Linked DNA regions of Homo sapiens: region 2 is linked to region 1. The links come from fine-mapping of genetic effects on gene expression. A gene starts in region 1. The other region holds a variant in brackets. All regions are shown on one strand. Distances are between the middles of the regions.

Region 1 (2,909 bases):
GGTTCTGTCCAGAAAGGTGGGACAACTTGAATTGTTGGGTGGAGGTTGGGGGCTCCCAGGTTACAGGTAGATTTAAAATTGACTGGTTGACAATTGGTTAAGTTTATCTAAAGATCTGGGCTCAATAGAAAGAAAATGTCTGTGCTGTGATAGGAGGTTGTGGAGACCAAAGTTTTACCATGCAGATGAAGCCTCCGGGTAGCAGGCTTCAGAGAAAATAGATTGTAAATGCTTCTCATCAGAGAGGTATAATGAGTCCTGTCTGACCTCTACTTTCCATCATGGCCTGAACCAGTCTTTCAGGTTAAAAGTACCCTGGCCCAGGAGGAAGTCCATTCAGATGGTTGCAGGGAGGGCGGGGCTTAGAATTTTATTTTTGGTTTACATCCTGTCTCAAAAGAAAAAAAAAAAGAATAAAAGAGTTTTTGGTTTACACCCTGTCTCAAAAAAAAAAAAATGAAAGAAAAGAAAAATCTCAAGGACATCTAAAAGCTGATAAGACAGAAATTACCAGGCCAAAAATAAAAGGGAAGTAGAATGCAGAAAGGGAAAAAAAACAGAATGGAAGCTGCTTTTTCCCTGAGAGCTTTTTCAGAACCTGAAAATCAGAACTTGTTTGAGCCTCCCGGAGACTGGTGGAGAAAGAAGTCCAGCCAGGCCCTGCCCAACTCTAAAGGAAAACCCAAACTTGTCGATATTTGATGAGACTATAAATCGCTTGCCTCTTTTCACTCTCTGGTGCTCCAGCAGCACAGCCCCACACCAACCTTCATCTGGAGTGTCTCAAGACCTTCTGGAATCTTCTCCCACACATACCTCCTTACACAGGTCCATTCTGTGAAAATAAGCAATTCAAAATCTAAGCTGTTGGAACTTTAAAATATTTCGAGCCTTAAGGGAATTTGATCATGGGACCTGAGTCATGTAAACAGGCAGCTGCAACCTTTGTTTCTCTGATTATAGATTAGCCTTTTTCCTTACTTACATTGTTGTGTAAAATGTCGTATATGACTGAAGCGTTCCAGGGAAGACCCCTTTCCTCTTCACTGTTGATCTTCATTATAGATTAACTCCCTCTTTCCTCTCTGACAGAGACTTCATGACCATCACATTGTCTGGGATAGAATGTTAAACACATTCTTAAATTGGAAAGGAAATGAAAACAAGCTGTAGAGAAAAGAAAACAAGGTGGAGGCAGGGGAACAACCTATAATTAATTATAGGTTGTAACTCATAAACCAGCCTTGCATAGAAAATGTTAAACAAGAAAGTTAAAACAAGAAAAGTTATACAAGAAAATGTTCTACAAGGTTACTAAATGTCTTTGCTTTCTGCCTATGTAAGCAAGACTTTAACTTTTAACTTCAGGGCCCTGGCCCCATTTTCCTAGAGTCTGTGTTTCTCAGATGGCCATTCCCAGCTTTTGGCTTGAATAAACTCTTTAAAACTGGATTCTGGGCTGGGTGCAGCGGCTCACGCCTGTAATCCCAGCACTTTGAGAAGCTGAGACAGGAGAAATCACTTAAGCCCAGGAGTTCGAAACCAGCCTGGTCAATAAAGTGAGACCGATTAAAGAGAAGTAAACTTAAAAACGAACAAAAACAACTTTGTTTTTAAAACTTAAAAACTTAAAAACAACGAAAACCCTGGATTCTGATCCTTTCAATTACTTTATATTGACAATTCTACTATGGGTGCTGCCCAATCAGCCTTGTAAAGCACAGGGCTGACCACTTCAACTCCCTGCTGAGGGTTGAATCTGGAATAAAATCCAGATTCCAGAGCTACGGTGCCCTTAGATCTGGGGCTGTTGCTTTTGTACTTCTGTTTTTCCACTTTACTTAGCTGAAGCACAATCCCTACAGCAAGCTAAGAAAGGAAAAGGTCCATTCCAAAACCCTTCGCTCCCTAGACCACTGCTCTGTGTGCAGACAACGAAAACAGCCGAGAGTTCACACAAAAGGGAAGGACTAACTGCCCGGGGCAGGCTTCAAGGAATGCCTGTTAAGCCCCAGGGAGGAAGTGGCTGTTGACTTGGGAAGAGTCCGTTGGGTAGTCAAGGGCTAAGGTGGTGGTTGACATGAAGGCAAATTTTCCATGCCCTGGTGAGAAGTTGGAATCCTTGCTGTGAACGTTGGGTAGTACAGTTTGCAGGACCATTTGCTTGGCTATTGGGTCCCACCTGTTGACAGGTGCCAAGCCTGATTTTCCTTGGCCTTCCCTCCTGATTTAGCTGAACACCAACCTTCTCAACACAACCCCGAAGTACACCTTGCTCAGTTTTTAACAGAGCTGCTAGATTTCAAGGCATGATTCTCAGCACTGTGTCCGGAATTGGTGGGTTCTTGGTCTCACTGACTTCAAGAATGAAGCCGTGGACCCTCGCGGTGAGTGTTACAGCTCTTAAGGTGGCGTGTCTGGAGTCTGTCCCTTCTGATGTTCAGATGTGTTCGGAGTTTCTTCCTTCTGGTGGGTTCGTGGTCTCGCTGGCTCAGGAGTGAAGCTGCAGACCTTCGCGGTGAGTGGTACAGCTCTTAAGGTAGCGTGTCTGGAGTTGTTCATTCCTCCCGGTGGGCTCGTGGTCTTGCTGGGCTCAGGAGTGAAGCTGCAGATCTTCGCGGTGAGTGTTACAGCTCATAAAAGCAGCGTGGACCCAAAGAGTGAGCAGTAGCAAGATTTATTGCAAAGAGCAAAAGAACAAAGCTTCCACAGTGTGGAAGGGGACCCGAGCGGGTTGCCAATGCTGGCTCGGGCAGCCTGCTTTTATTCTCTTATCTGGCCCCACCCACATCCTGCTGATTGGTATAGGGATAAGCAAGTACCTAGCCACCACCATCTTTGCTCCCAGCGTGGCTCACCTGCCTAGCTCAAACCTTCATGGAGCTGTGATCTGTACCCCAGGATACAAA
Region 2 (2,909 bases), 14 kb before region 1:
TCCACCCGATGTTTACTGGGCATCAGTTAGGAGTTAGGCATTGTTCCTGCTGTGAGATCCCACTGATGCCTGGGGTGACGGATCATCATACTCAACAGAGCTTTCATTTATCAAGTGCTTCTTCTATACCAGACCCGGGATGAAATGCTTTACAGCTAATATCTCGTTTAATCGTCACCAAAAGCCAAGCAGAGGTCGAATCATCCCATTTAACAGTTCAGAAAAAGAAGTCTCATGAGGTGAAACAAGCTGCCCAAAGAGTTTCAGCTTAGCACAGCACAGCTGGGATGGAACCAAGGCCTGTGGGACACCAGCCTGCTTCCCAGCACCTCCCAAGGGGTCCACACCTGGGACATTCTGGGGAAATGCCTGGGATTAGCCAAGGTCCTTGATCCCCTTCCCACACTGCATTGCACACAGGACGGGGCACATTGAGTGTCCATAACCAGTCAGGAGTGACTGGTGGAGGCTTGAACAGCGTGACCAAGCATTCCACCTCACATCAGGGGTCCTGCCCCTAAATCTCAGCGGGACCGCAGCCAAGTGGCTCCCTGACTGGGCCTGGGCAATGAAGAGATGACAGTTGATAAAGATCTTTGGAGAGTTCTCAGAGCACTGATCAAACATAGAGTCACCATTTGGATCAGAGGGAGCTCGTGTTGCTGGCCTTGGATGCTGGCCTGCCACTCTCTAGCTTTGTGACCTTGGGTAAGTGACTTAACCTCTCTGAGCCTCAATCCAACTCAGTTTTCCTGTCTGTATTCCAGGGATAGTAGTAATGCCTTCCTGACAGAGCTCAGAGGTTAAAGGAGATGATGGAGGCAAAGTGCCAGAGCATGGTGCCAGGCCCCAAAGGGTGCAATGATGTGATGGGATCATAAGAAGAGCGGGTATGGTGGCAGCCCCATTTCCCTGCATCCTCCTGGCTCCAAGCATGGGAGGCAACACCCAGTAAACCTGTGGAATTGAGTTGAATCTACCAACCCCAGATAAGAACCCATGTGCAGTGTCATGAAACCACTTGCAGTTATAGGGTAAAGACCTCAGAGGAAAAAAATATGCTTTGTTGGCCGGGCGCAGTGGCTCACGCCTGTAATCCCAGCACTTTGGGAGGCCGAGGTGGGCAGATCACGAGGTAGGAGATCGAGACCATCCTGGCTAACACGATGAAACCCCGTCTCCACTAAAAATGAAAAAAAAAAAAAAAATTAGCCGGGTGTAGTGGCAGGCGCCTGTAGCCCCAGCTACTCGGGAGCCTGAGGCAGGAGAATGGCGTGAACCGGGGAGGCGGAGCTTGCAGTGAGCTGAGATCACGCCACTGCACTCCAGCCTGGGGGACACAGTGAGACTCCGTCTCAAAAAAAAAAAAAA[G/AG]CTTTGTCCACAGTCCAGGGTGGGAGGCCAGTAGGGGGCTTTACTGAGCAGGGCAGAATCTGTTTTCTTTCCCTCCATATTAGAGTCAAGACCATGTAGGGAGCTCCAAATGCCACGCCTTTCCCCAGCTGGTGGCTGCTGTTATGCTGAACCCCTATCTACTCCAATGGGGATGGCAGCAGGTTTGAGAGGCTGAAGAAAGGACCCAGGGCTGCTGAAGGAGACATGGAGTTTTACTGGGGCTTACATGCAGGGGAGAGCATCTAGCAGTGGTGGGCTGGGCAGGAGAGCCACACAACTTACAAAAAGCTTGCAGCATATATAGCATCTTCACTTAGCACCCTCCCCCAACAGTGTCCACCTGGCAACATTTACCTAACCCAAAACAAAGGGCCTTGATCCCCTGTACTGTCCGTGTTGCACAGGACGGGACAGGAGCTCAGATGTTCCTCATAGATAAGGAATAGGAATGAATCTCCAGGTTGGCCACTCCCAGATTCCTTAGCTCAGAACTCCAAACCACATTCACCTGCACCTGCCATAAGGGTCATTCTCAGGGGATGCTTAAGTTATTGCTATCAGGTGCGTTCACTGTAAGCGGCTTTTGGGGAAATCACCTGCTGGGTCTGGAGGAGCAGGGCTATCATAGGAGAAGGTCCCCCAGGTTCAGAAGAGCCTGGTAATCTCAAGCATATCACCTCCAGGCCTCACCTTCCCCATGCATCCATCCAGGGGCCTCTTCCTCTGTGTCACTCTGGGCTCCATCCTCTTGGTGCATTTGGAGTCAGACGAGACCTGGGTTCAAATCCTTGGCTGGAGGGATGCAAGATGCACGTGGAAGGAGAACCAATTCATCCTGTCCAGGCTCTTCTAGAGCAGCTGGTCTCCTGCCGACCTGTCTAGCTGACCCTAGCACCAGAGCAAGCTCAGCCAAGGTGGGCCAAGCCAGGCCCCGGTTGGCAGAAACACTCAACTGACTTGACACATGTGGGCAACAATAAGTGCTTGCTACATTTCGGTGTGGCTTGTCATGGAGCAATAGCTCACTGGTGTAACCAAGAGGCAGCAGAGCTGTGCGTGCGGTAAACAAACAGCAGTCCAGCTGCCAAGGAACATTTCATATACGAAGGCAGGAAGCCGTGACAGCACCTGCAGTTTACCAGCAGGGTAGTTATGAGGCCTGGTGCTGTGGGGGTCCTTCTACCACGAGAGAAGCCAGCCTGGGGACAGAGGACAGAGGAGACCCTATTCCCCACTTGTCCCCTCGTGTGCTCCCACATGGCACAGATATTTGATGCTCAGAGCTGTGCCAGGCATCTTACAAAGGTGAAGGAAAGGAAAACTGTATAAATGGGGATGCCAGCTCAGTGCCCTGATCTGATGAACCAGTGCTGGAAGCTTCTGTTCAGGGATAAAAATAAGCCCTTCTTATTTCAGCTACATTGGCAGGCTTTCTGTTGCCTGCTGCTGAAACTCCTATCTGATGCACAGTGGCTGCCTGGTCCCCACAACTCCCTGATTTCTGCAAGACCAGGCCA

What was found.
Region 2: its variant is fine-mapped to the expression of TCL6 in whole blood (INTERVAL, PIP 0.92).

Annotation. Positions count from the first base shown.
Region 1 is chr14:95,650,303-95,653,211 of GRCh38, reverse strand. TCL6 (T cell leukemia/lymphoma 6) reads right to left here and starts at 1,115. Exons shown (of 8, transcript NR_028288.2): 1 at 986-1,115; 2 at 723-835.
Region 2 is chr14:95,664,250-95,667,158 of GRCh38, reverse strand. LOC124903372 reads right to left here and starts at 2,346. Exons shown (of 2, transcript XM_047432042.1): 1 at 2,083-2,346. The coding sequence starts at 2,136. The region is part of intron 4 of TCL6 (T cell leukemia/lymphoma 6); the gene reads right to left. RefSeq lists enhancers at 1-445, 1,092-1,739. The variant G/AG (reference allele first, on the strand shown) is at 1,372.